Linked DNA regions of Homo sapiens: all the other regions are linked to region 2. Evidence: fine-mapped expression QTL. A gene starts in region 2. Each other region holds a variant in brackets. All regions are shown on one strand. Distances are from middle to middle.

Region 1 (4,164 bases), 870 kb before region 2:
CACAGGACTCACAGTGGGAGACAGAGCGGAGCGTCCAGTGCTTCCTCGGCTAGCTGTATCCCACGATGCCGGGTCATTTGCGGACACAGTCTGCACCTCCTTTATCGCTTGTGTTACTGATGTGGGTTGAATAGCATCTGCTTTAGTCTGTTTGGACTGCTATAACAAAATATCGTAGACTGGGGGATTCATGAACGACAGAAACGTGTAGCTCACATTTCTGGAGGCAGGGAAGTCCAAGGATAGGATTTTTTTTTTTTTTTTTGAGACGGAGTTTTGCTCTTGTTGCCCAGGCTAGTGTGCAGTGGCGCAATGTTGGCTCACTGCAACCTCCACCTTCCAGTCTCAAGTGATTCTCCTGCCTCAGCCTCCCAAGTCACTGGGATTACAGGCGCCCACCACCATGCTCAGGTATTTTTTTTTGTATTTTTAGTAGAGACGGGGTTTCACCATGTTGGTCAGGCTGGTCTCGAACTGCTGACCTTGTGATCCACCTGCCTCGGCCTCCTAGAGTGCTGGGATTACAGGCTTGAGCCACCACGCCCAGCCCTGACTTTTTTTTTTTTTGAGACAGAGGTTCGCTCTTGTTGCCCAGGCTGGAGGGCGATGATGCGATCTTGGCTCACTGCAGCCTCCGTCTCCCAGGTTCAAGCGATTCTCTTGTCTCAGCCTCCTGAGTAGCTGGGACTACAGGTGTCTGCCACAATGCCTGGTTATTTATTTATTTATTTTTGTATTTTTAGTAGAGAAGGGGTTTCTCCATGTTGGCCATGCTGGTCTTGAACTCCTGATCTCAGGTGATCCGCCTGCCTCGGCCTCCCAGAGTGCTGGGATTATGTGTGTAAACCACTGTGCCCAGCCAAATGTCTGCTATTGTAAGCCACCCAGCCTGTGATAATTTATTACAGCAGCCACAGGAAGAGACTAATACAACTCCTATTTCTTTAATTTTTTATTTTATTTTATTTTTTTGAGACGGAGTTTCCCTCTGTCTCCCAGGCTGGAGTGCAGTGGCATGATCTCGGCTCACTACGACCTCCGCTTCCCAGGTTCAAGCCAATTCTCCTGCCTCAGCCTCCTGAGTAGCTGGGATTACAGGTGCCCGCTACCACACCTGGCTGATTTTTGTATTTTTAGTAGAGATGGGGTTTCATCATGTTGTCCAGGCTGGTCTTGAACTCCTGACCTCAGGTGATGCACCCACCTCGGCCTCCCGAAGTGCTGGGATTACAGGCATGAGCCACCATGCCTGGCCCAACTCCTATTTCTTTAATTTTTTTTTGAGATGGGTTCTTGCTAGGTTGCCCAGTCTGCTCTCAAACTCCTGGGCTCAAGTGATCCTCTCGCCTTAGCCTTAGCTGGGACTACAGGTGCTTGCTACCACACCTGACTTCTTTAATTTTTTTTTTTTTTTTTTTTTTTTGAGATGATGCCTTGCTCTATCTCCCAGACTGGAGGCTCTGTCACCCAGGCTGGAGTGCAGTGGTGCAATCTTGTCTCACTGCAACCTCTGCCTCCCGTGTTCAAGCGATTCTCCTGCCTCAGTCTCCTGAGTAGGTGGGATTACAGGCACCCGCTGCCACACCTGGCTAATTTCTGTATTTTTTAGTAGAGACGGGGTTTCACCATGTTGGCTAGGCTGGTCTCGAACTCCTGACCTTGTGATCTACCTGCCTCGGCCTCCCAAAGTGCTGGGATTACAGGCATCAGCCACTGCGCCTGGCCACTTTTTTTTTTTTTTTAACTTGAAACATTTTATCTTTTTTTTTTTTTTTGAGATAGGGTTTCGCTCTGTCACCCAGGCTGGAGTACAGTGGTGTGATGACAGCTCACTGAAGCTTCAACCTCCTGGGCTCAGGTGATCCTCCCACCTCAGCCTCCCAAAATATTGGATTATAGGCATGAGCCACTGCACCTGGCCTGTTTTATCACTTCTTTTAAATTTTTTTTTTGAGAAAGAGCCTTGCTCC[G/A]TCACCCAGGCTGGAGTACAGTGGTGCGATCTCGGCTCACTGCAACCTCCGCCTCCCGGGTTCAAGCGATTGTCCTGCCTCAGCCTCCCGAGTAGCTGGGATTACAGGCATGCACCACCACACCCAGCTAACTTTGTATTTTTAGTAGAGATGGGGTTTCTCCACGTTGGTCAGGCTGGTCTGGAACTCCCGACCTCAGGTGATCTGCTCGCCTCGGCCTTCCAAAGTGCTGGGATTATAGGCGTGAGCCTCTGTGCCTGGCCCAGTTTTTTAAATTTATTTATTTTTTTGAGACAGAGCCTCTCTCCATCGCCCAGGCTGGAGTGCAGTGGTGTGATCTTGGCTCACTGCAACCTCCAGGGTTCAAGTGATTCTCCTGCCTTGGCCTCCTGAGTAGCTGGGACTACAGGTGCACGCCACCTCCCCTGTCTAATTTTTGTACAGTAGAGACGGGGTTTTGCCATGTTGGCCAGGCTGTTCTCAAACTCCTGACCTCCATGATCTGCCTGCCTCAGGCTTCCAAAGTGCTGGGATTACAGGCGTGAGCCACCGTGCCCGGCCCTGTTTTATCACTTTAATCATTGGTATCTGTAAGAGACTGGCTTTGCTGGGCTGGTGGGGCTTTCTCCAATGCACAGTGAAATAAATGCAGCTTCCTGGCTGGGTGTCCTGACCCCATCCTCTCTGCTTCCGGGTATTTCCCTAAAGTTGAGCCTTCACCCCAGCGTTGCCCTGAGTTCCTGAGGCTGGGGTTCCAGTCCTGGAAGCTGGGGTGCTCTGGCTGGGCCCCCTGCACAGTCTGGGCTCTCTCACAAGTCCTCCAGCAGAGCGATGTCACCCTTCCACGTCCCCACCCCAGTTCTCTGACGGCAGCTGAAGGGGATCAGGATATGTTACTCTTAAAAATATATCACTTAGAGACCGGGCACAGTGACTCACGCCTGTAATCCAGCACTCTGGGAGGTGGAGGTGAGTGGATCATTTGAGCTCGGGAGTTCGAGACCAGCCTGGGCAACATGGCAAAACTCCATCTCTACCAAAAATACAAAAAATTCACCAGGCATATGGTGGCATCCACCTGTGGTCCCAGCTACTTGGGAGGCTGAGGTGGGAGGATGGCTCGAGGCTGCGAGGCTGAGGTTGCAGTGAGCCGAGATTGCACCACTGCCCTCCAGCCTGGGTGACAGAGCAAGACCCTGTCTCAAACAAACAAACAAACAATCTATTATCTATCTATCTATCTATCTATCTATCTATCTATCTATCTATGTATCTATCTATGTATCTATCTATCAACTTTAGCATAAGAATTATTCTGAGCTGAATGCAATAGAAAATCAGTAGATGGCCAGGCGCGGTGGCTGACGCCTATAATCCCAGCACTTTGGGAGGCCGAGGTGGGTGGATCACCTGAGGTCAGGAGTTGGAGACCATCCTGGCCAATATGGTGAAACCTTGTCTCTACTGAAAATATAAAAAATTAGCTGGGCATGGTGGTGGGAACCTATAGTCCCAGCTACTCGGGAGGCTGAGGCACAAGAATCCCTTGAACCTGGGAGGTGGAGGTTGCAGTGAGTCGAGATCCTGACACTACAATCCAGCCTGGGCAACAGAGCGAGACTCTGTCTCAAAAAAAAAAAAAAAAAAAAAAAATCAGTAGAGGCAGAAAGAATTCTCTGCTCTCTACTTTTCTGCCTCAAAGCCAGGCATAAACTTCTCTTTAAGAAGGTGACATAAGGCTGGGCGTGGTGGCTCACTCCTGTAATCCCAGCACTTTGGGAGGCCGAGGCGGGCAGATCACAAGGTCAGGAGATCAAGACCATCCTGGCTAACACGGTGAAACCCTGTCTCTACTAAAAATACAAAAAAATTAGCTGGGCATGGTGGCGGGCACCTATAGTTCCAGCTACTCAGGAGGCTGAGGCAGGAGAATGGCGTGATCCCAGGAGGCAGAGCTTGCAGTGAGCCAAGATTGCACCACTGCACTCCAGCCTGGGCAACAGAGTGCGACTCCGTTTCAAAAAAAAAGGTGACATAAATTTTCCTTTGTGGAGGTATCCCCCCGTCTCCTTACCAGGGAGAGCAGAATGACTCCTATCACTGCAGATAGTCAGTCCCAAGATGAGTCTACATAAACAAACCTTCCTAAAATAACTCTCTGTCTCCCTCTCTCTCTTTTTTTTTTGGAACAGGG
Region 2 (4,164 bases):
GAAGCCAGCCTCACCAGCAGAGGATGACGAGGATGATGACATCGACCTGTTTGGCAGCGACAATGAGGAGGAGGACAAGGAGGCGGCACAGCTGCGGGAGGAGCGGCTACGGCAGTACGCGGAGAAGGCCAAGAAGCCTGCATTAGTGGCCAAGTCCTCCATCCTGCTGGATGTCAAGCCTTGGGACGATGAGACGGACATGGCCCAGCTGGAGGCCTGTGTGCGCTCTATCGAGCTGGACGGGCTGGTCTGGGGGACCTCCAAGCTGATGCCCGTGGGCTACGGTATCCGGAAGCTACAGATTCAGTGTGTGGTGGAGGACGACAAGGTGGGGACTTACTTGCTGGAGGAGGAGATCACTAAATTTGAGGAGCACGTGCAGAGTGTCGATATCGCAGCTTTCAACAAGATCTGAAGCCTGAGTGTGTGTATGTGTGCGCGTGCGTAAGGCCCTGCCACGATTAAAGACTGAGACCGGCAAAAAAAAAAAAAAAAAAAAAAAAGAAAAAAAAAAGAAAGAAAGAAAAGAAAAAGAAAAAGAAAAAAATGTTCCCGTGAAAGGGGGCCAAGAACCCAGCCCAGTTGGCATGGCTGGAGGAAGGACCAGGAGATGATGCAGTGGGGAAGGTGCTATAGAGAAAACTTTTTCCCAGAAGTATACAGCTTATTTATTTATTTATTTATTTATTTATTTTGAGACAGAGTTTTGCTCTTGCTGCCTAGGCTAGAGTGCAGTGGCGCGATCTTGGCTCACTGTAACCTCCACCTCCCAGGTTCAAGTGATTCTCCCACCTCAGCTTCCCGAGTAGCTGGGATTACAGGCGCCCACCACCAGGCCTGGCTAATTTTTTTTTTGTATTTTTAGTAGAGACGGGGTTTGGCCATGCTGGCCAGGCTGGTTTCGAACTGCTGACCTCAGGTGATCCTCCCGCCTCGGCCTCTCAAAGTGCTGGCATCACGGGCATGAGCCTCCATGCCCGGCCGGTAACTGTATTTTTCCTTCTGGGCACCCCAGAATGGTGGGGTTGGGGGCAGGTTCTGGGAAGAGTCTGCTTCCATTAGGGGGAAAGTGGAAAACGTCCCTAGGGGAGGGTGGCCCGCGCAAGGGCATCGATCCTGCCCTTGAACCGCATGATCCGGCCCCAGCTGCTCTTTCCCCCTACCCTGGACGCCTCCTGTTTCCTGTCTGGGCCTCCCCAGGCGCCCGGGCCCAAGGTGACCGCCTTTCAACTGCAACCGCTAAGCTGCGCCCACGGCGCACTGTGTCCGTCTCTCCCTCCTCCCTCAATCCGGGAGTGCCCTTGGCAGCGGACACCTCCCGGATTTTTCCGGGAGGAGAGGGGAAGCCGCTTCTCGGCTTGGCGTGGGGGCAGTGGTGCGCGGCTGGGAACCTCGCTGAGCCCAAGCATTGGTAGGGAGACCCCAGCGGCCAGTAAGGCGGCTCCTGGCGCCCCCTCGGGCCGGAGCTGTGCGCTGCAAGGCTGGATCGGAGGGAGGGCCCAGGGGCCTGAGGAGTCGCTGCCTGCCGGCTGGCACGACCAAGCGGGACTGCCCGGGTCCCGAAAATACGGCTTCGGGGGACACCTCACCAAGCGGCTAGTGGTTCAGAACCCCAGTCCGACGCGCTGCTGGGCCCAGTCTCCGGGACGATGACGGGGACATGGCTCTGAAAAAGTGCCAGGGTGCGCTCAGTAGAACCCAGCACCCAGAATGGCCCCCCAGAGAGCGGGGCCGGGTCTAGGGAAGCCCTCTTCCAAGAAGTCCCGTGCCCTGAGGTGACTGGGCGCGCTAGTTGATGAAACTGAGTGCCCCACCGAGGCGCCCCTGTCCCGAGGGCGGGGCCAGGGCGGGGCGGGAGTCCTCCTGGCAGGTGCCGGGGGCGGTGCCCGGCCCTGCCCCCGGGGGCCGTTCCTGGAGGCCAGAGGCGGGTCAGAGAAGCCGCCGGTGCGGGCGACGCCTTGGAACCCACGGCCGCCACTGCCGCCACAGGTGCCTCACAGTGCCCTCTGTCCTCGCTCTGGGAATCAAAACCCCGGTTGGGAACTGAGGCTTCCGAACTGCTTCCAACCCTGGACACGAAGGCCCCCACCGGCCGGAGAACGAAACCCTGGGGTCGTCTGAAGAGGAGGGCCAGGAGTCCCCAGGGCCAGACAGCGAAGCCCCAGAGCTGCTGCGGAGCTGAACACCGAGGTCCCCAAGCCCTCCGCAAAGGACGTGGAGATCCTGGAGCAAGAGAGCGAAGTCCTCGAGCCATCAGTCGAGCAGGACGCAGAGAGCCCCGGGCTGTCCACAGCTGCGGGCTTTGAGAGTCCTGAGCCAGGCAGAGACGACCCTGGGCCGTCCGAAGCGCAAAGGGCGGAGGTCCAGGGGCAGCATCCCCCTCCAGGCCCTAAGACCTCCTCCTCCAGGTCAGGCTCGGAAGCCCCCCACCTGCGTTTTCCGCCGTGCCCCGAGGCTCCCCAGCGTCCCCCGGAGGAGCGGTTCATGGAGACGCCCATCGAGCGCGAAATCCGCCGCAGCTGCGAACGCGAGGAGAGCCTGCGCCGGAGCCGGGGCCTGAGCCCGGGCCGCGCAGGCCGTGAACTCGTCGAGCTGCGCGTGCGGCCGGTGCTCAACCTGCCGGGTCCTGGCCCCGCGCTCCCGCGCGCCCTGGAGCGGGCGCGGGCGGGCGCGCAGATGCAGCGGGACATCGAGCGGGAGGCCCACCGGCAGGCGGCGCTGGCGCGCCCCGCGGTCCCCGAGCCGCGCGCCCGGTCGCCGCCGCAGCCGCTGGGCGAACTCAAGCGCTTCTTCGAGGCCGCGGCGGGGAGCGGCTCCTCGGCGGGGGCGGGGGACGGCGCGGGCCCGCAGAGGCTGCCAGAGCCTGGGGGACGGCCGCGCTCGGCCGTGCAGGGCGGGTGCCGGGTGCTGGGCAGCGCCCCGCCGCCTTTCACTCCGTCACTGCTGGAGCAGGAGGTGCGCGCCGTGCGCGAGCGCGAGCAGGAACTGCAGCGCCAGCGGCGCAGCGTCTATGGCACCGCGGAGTTCAAGGAGCCTACGCCGAGCCTCACCGGTAAGCCGCGGGCGTAGCAACGCCGGGACCCCCAGGGTTCCAGCCGCCCCCACCGATTGCCCAACTTCAGTGGCCCCTCCTGTGGCCCTCCGATTCTCGGGGTCTCTCCCTCCAAGCTCCCAGACCCCCTCTCAATTTTGTCTCTTGCCTACCCCTTCTGGAGCTCCATTACTCGCTGTGATCCACCCCTCCACCGGGAGTGATGGACTCTCTGATCCACACCACCCAGGCTGCGCGGGGGTGGGGGCATTCCAGATGTCTTCCTTTTTGTCGGGTTCCAGGGAACCCTGACTGGGTTCTGGCACTCCTGGGTCCTCCCTCTGAATTTTCGGGCTCCTGCTTCTCCATTCTGGGTTCACCTCCCTCCTCCCTCGGGTTCCTGGGTGCCTGGAGTTGAATGGAGGCTTTCATGGGGAGGCGGAGGGTGAACGCCTGTGTGTGTTTAAGGGGTGCGGCCGGCCTTTCATCCTGGCTGCCGCCAGCTGGTGAGCTGAGCGCCCCTTCCCCCGCAGCGAGCAGGGGCGACGGAAAGTTGGTGGTGATCTGGCCCCCCCGCAGAAAGGTCTCGGAGAACGGCCTGGAGCAGGTGGGAGCCCCCTTACCCGTGTGCCTCTAGCGCTTGTCGGTCCCCCCACCCCTCCGGTGCCAGGACGCTTGGTGGGGAAAAGTGCATCCTCCCTGGAGGGCCACTCTGGTCAGAACTCAGTCTGGGACGCATCCCCGGGGTGAAGAGGAGACGGTGGTCTTGAGGCCCAAACCGCCACCCCGAGCCTGGATGCAGTGCGCAGGTCCCTGAGGCCGGCCTTCCTTCTGGTCCTCTGTCCCCAGGAGGAGCGCAAACCTTGAGGTTTGAAAAGGCTGGGACCCCCGGCCGGAAGTAACGTACGCGTCAGAGGAACAGGGCGGGGGGCGTCTAGCATTAGGCCTGGAGAAGGGTCGGCTCTCTGCATTGGGGAAGATGAAATCGACTTGCCTTTGTGAAATTGACCAGCCCCCTCTATAAAACTTACAGTCCCCCATTGGGAAACTGACCACCACCCACAACTCCGCCAGTGAAACTGCCCAGCCCTTCTCTGCCTAATTGCAAACTGAACTACCCTCTCCCTTGACTG
Region 3 (4,164 bases), 180 kb before region 2:
TCACTCTGTACCATTTTGTGTTTTTTTAAAAATTGTGCTAAGGCCGTGCGCAGTGGCTCATGCCTGTAATCCCAGCACTTTGGGTGGCTGAGGCGGGCAGATCACCTGAGGTCAGGAGTTCAAGACCAGGCTGGCCAACATGGTAAAACCCCGTCTCTACTAAAAATACAAAAATTAGCTGGGCGCGGTGGGCAGGCGTCTGTTATCCCAGCTACTTGGGAGGCTGAGGCGGGAGAATTGCTTGAACCCAGTGGGGCAGAGGTTGCAGTGTGCCAAGATGGCACCATCGCACTCCAGCCTGGGTGACAAGAGTGAAACTCTGTCTCAAAAAAAAGAAAAAAAATAAAATAAAGAATTGTTGCATAGTCAACACACATCCATAGCGCAATGTACTGAAAACGGTGGGTGGAGAGGTGCAGGCCTCACCATTGCCAAAGAACTCCAGGGTTAAATGGGGCTGCCGAGGCTGGGCCAGGAGGCTGCACCTGCGCTGGGCTCAGCCTGGCTGATTTTAGAGCCTTACCAGGCTAAAGGCCCCACTCCCACGGTCCTCATCCTTCATCTCTTCTTTTCTTGTCACTGTCTTCCTGGATTTTGCAAACTGGGGAACAAACCTCCCGAATGAGTTCTGTAAACCGGATACAAGAACAAAGCAGCAATAAAGATAAGAGAGGAATGAGGTCTTAGGAAAAAAGCAACCCCAAACCTGCTCCTTTCTTGTAGCCTTGAGAGAACTCCACCCTTGCCCTCTGGGCACATTCCCTCCAGCCCCTGTAGACCATGAGTGAGCAATTGGTGACAAAGAAGGGAGACACAGAGCCGGAACTTTAAGGGAGGCAGTGGTGCTTCTATATCCACGAGGCCACAGGACGAGCTCACCTGGGAAGGAGGAAGGGGAGCTGGCTCCTTTTCTGGTTGACGGAGGAGCCGGCAGGGAGATCCTGTTTCCTCATCAGGGGAGCTATGTAGGAAAAGATAAAACTGAAGGAGATCTGCCCGGGTGCGGTGGCTCACACCTGTAATTGCAGCACTTTGGGCGGCTGAGGCGGGCAGATCACCGAGGCCAGGAGTTCGAGACCAACCTGGGGAACATGGTGAAACCGTATCTCTACTAAAAATACAAAAATTAGCTGGATGTGGTGGCGCACGCCTGTAATCCCAGCTACTTGGGAGGCTGAGGCAGAATGGCTTGAACTCAGGAGATGGTGTTTGCAGTGAGCCAAGATTGTGCTACTGCATTCCAGCCTAGGTGAGAGAACAAGGTTCTGTGTCAAAAACAAACAAACGAGGGGGATCTGAAATCCTCCTAGGTTGTCACTCACCTATCGAGACAAACGCAAAACAAAATCCAACAGGAAACCAGTGCTAAGAGTCTCCTAGGCTGGGCGTGGTGGCTCATCCCTTTAATCCCAGCACTGTGGGAAGCTGAGGTGGGTGGATGCCCAGGAGTTTGAGACCAGCCTGAGCAACATAGTGAGACCCCTTTTCTACAAAAAATTTAAAAATTAGCTGGACGTGGTGATGTGTGCCTGTGGCCCCAGCTACTTGAGAGGCTGAAATGTCACGATCATCTGAGCCAGGGGAGTTCAGGCTGCAATGAGCTATGATCACGCCACTGCACTCCAGCCTGGGTGACAGAGCAAGACCCTATCTCAAAAAAAAAAAAATGTCTGCTAGATGGAAGGCCCTGGAAAACCTGCTTTGAAAGAGTGGGATGGGGATGGAGAAGCAGTGACCTGAGAACATTTAACTGTCAAGGAGGGTGCAGAGTCCCACCTGGAGAATACACTGCCTTAACAGGTGACTTTGTTACATTTATAATCCCAGGAATTGCCTTCTGAACTGGGAATAGGGATATTCTCATTTGGACGGACACTCCAGCCCTGACACGGCACATTCTAGGGAAAGGAAATTGTGGATGCAAGAAACATAGTGTCTTTAAAAACTAGTGAAACTTAGGGTTATATTTAAATAAATAAGGGCCAGGCGTGGTGGCTCACGCCTGTAATCCCAGCACTTTGGGAGGCCGAGGCGGGCGGATCACCTTAAGTCAGGAGTTCGAGACCAGCCTGGCCAACATGGTGAAACCCCGTCTCTACTAAAAATACAAAAATTAGTTGGGTGTGGTGGCGGGCGCCTTTCATCCCAGCTACTCAGGAGGCTGAGGCAGGAGAATCGCTTGAACCCGGGAGGTGGAGGTTGCAGTGAGCCGAGATTGTGCCACTGCACTCCAGCCTGGGTGACAGAGAAAGACCCTGTCTCAAATAAATAAATAAATAAATAAGGATATGTATATCGTTTTGTTTTGGCTAATTATTTTATTTCTTGTAGATATGGGGTCATCCTTGTTATGTTACACAGGCTCCTCTTGAACTCCTGGGCTCAAGCGATCCTCTTGCCTCAGCCTCCCAGTGTGCTGGGATTATAGGCATGAGCCACTGCACTCAGCCCTGATTGCTTTTCTTTTTTTATTGGTCGTTAGCTCACATAACAACAATTCCTTTGTTCCCTTCTTGATTAAGGAAGAGGAGGAATGTGGAAG[A/G]AGGATGGGTTTGACCAGCAGACAGAATATGAGTTCTGTAACCCTGAAAAATGCAATGTTATCTTTGCCCACAGTTAAAACTTTTTTTTCTTTTTTTAGATGGAGTCTCGCTGTTGCCCAGGCTGGAGCGTAGTGGCATGATCTCAGCTTACTGCAACCTCTGCCTCCTGGGTTCAGTCGATTCTCCTGCCTTAGCCTCCTGAGTATCTGGGATTACAGGTGCGCCACCACACCCAGCTAATTTTTGTATTTTTAGTAGAGACGGGGTTTTGCAGTGTTGGCCAGTCTTGTCTCAAACTCGTGACCTCAAGTGATCTTCCCCCCTCGGCCTCCCAAAGTGTTGGGATTACAGGCATTAGCCACCATGCCCGGCTAAAACATCAACCCTTCTTACCAGCGAGGAAAGCTAGGAGAAGCGAGATCCGAGGGCCCTGAGCTCTGGGAGGGAGTGGGTCACAGCACTAGATAGGTTGTGGGTCTCTTTCCCAAAGCATTGCTGTCTGCTGAGCTGCTGTGCTATGTGGACTGTCAGTGGGGAGACCTGCCGGAATGTTCAGAGCCACCTACCTGGAGACGGCCTTTCCTGGTTCCTCCCCGTGCTGCTGTGTAGAGGGAACAGGTCCCAATTTGCCCTCTGGCTCCTCAGGGTGATGTAAACAGCCCAACATGGAACTCTGGGGGTCCCCATAGAAGTCTCCTAGCCTTGGGTTCTTTAGGGGTTTTGGAGGACAGAGTCCCTCTCCTGTTTTAGAGACAGAGGAAGATGAAGGGGTGGGGGATACAGCCACTGCTCATGGCTGACAACTCAGGTCTCCCCCACTACAACCAGGCTGCACGCGAGAAGGGGCCGAATCCATTTCACTCTCTGCGGGGTCCCAAGTGCCTGTAAGAGCATCTTGTACACTGTTGGTGCTCAATAAATAAATTATCCATGACTGGATAAATGCACACCACCAAGGGCAGACAAGACTAAATTATGTACCATTCTAATGTGCTGAGACATCTGCAAAATAGCCATCCTGGGAAAACTGGGACTCACAGCCACCGGGTGCTGAAGAGGTGATGCTTTGGCCACGTCCTGGCCCCTTGCATTTCTGCACTAACTTCCCCATCACTGAAAGCAATTGCGATGTGTCTTCTTCTGGCATTTAAGAGGCTAAAGATGCTTATTGACATCTTTGTATATATAGCGCAGTGGCTCACGCCTATAATCCCAGCACTTTGGGAGGCCGAGGCGGGTGGATCACCTAAGGTCAGGAGTTCAAGACCAGCCTGGCCAACATGGCAAAACCCCGTCTCTACTGAAAATACAAAAATTAGCCGGGCATGGTGGCACCCACCTATAGTCCCAGCTACTTGGGAGGCTGAGGCAGGAGAATCGCTTGAACCTGGTAGGCGGAAGTTGCAGTGAGCTGAGATTGCGCTACTGCACTCCAGCCTGGTTGACAGAGCGAGACTCTGTCTCAAAAAAAAATTAATATATATTATATATCATATATAAAATACATACATATTCATATTTAATATATACATACATATAAAATATATAATTATAATGTATTTACATATTGCATATTTATAATTATAAAATATATTATTTAAATTATATATTTATGATATAT

Which allele goes with the higher level. Positions count from the first base shown, and alleles are read on the strand shown. Sizes are in standard deviations (SD) of each study's normalised expression. Not every link is listed here.
For the expression in CD4 T cells of the gene that starts at base 1,961 in region 2, allele G in region 1 goes with a lower level than allele A (large effect, 1.1 SD a copy in BLUEPRINT).

The links. PIP is the estimated chance that this variant, and not a neighbour inherited with it, causes the effect. A credible set is the group of variants that fine-mapping cannot tell apart.
Region 1: its variant is the best candidate, but not a certain one, in a credible set for the expression of MISP3 in CD4 T cells (BLUEPRINT, PIP 0.79).
Region 3: its variant is the best candidate, but not a certain one, in a credible set for the expression of MISP3 in testis (GTEx, PIP 0.84).

The regions. Positions count from the first base shown.
Region 1 is chr19:13,199,085-13,203,248 of GRCh38, forward strand. No RefSeq gene overlaps it. Among named protein-coding and RNA genes, the nearest start is that of IER2, 51 kb to the left of the region's middle. RefSeq lists a silencer at 3,987-4,164. The variant G/A (reference allele first, on the strand shown) is at 1,971.
Region 2 is chr19:14,070,826-14,074,989 of GRCh38, forward strand. MISP3 (MISP family member 3) reads left to right here and starts at 1,961. Exons shown (of 3, transcript NM_001291291.2): 1 at 1,961-3,052; 2 at 3,565-3,638; 3 at 3,881-4,164. The coding sequence starts at 2,485. The coding sequence ends at 3,898. MIR1199 (microRNA 1199) reads left to right here and starts at 2,536; the gene lies at 2,536-2,654. It also overlaps the pseudogene EEF1DP1. RefSeq lists silencers at 1,780-1,949, 2,520-2,929 and an enhancer at 3,117-3,637.
Region 3 is chr19:13,892,263-13,896,426 of GRCh38, forward strand. BRME1 (break repair meiotic recombinase recruitment factor 1) reads right to left here. Exons shown (of 9, transcript NM_001345843.2): 3 at 3,110-3,284; 4 at 880-961; 5 at 524-628. Among named protein-coding and RNA genes, the nearest start is that of BRME1, 12 kb to the right of the region's middle. The variant A/G (reference allele first, on the strand shown) is at 2,543.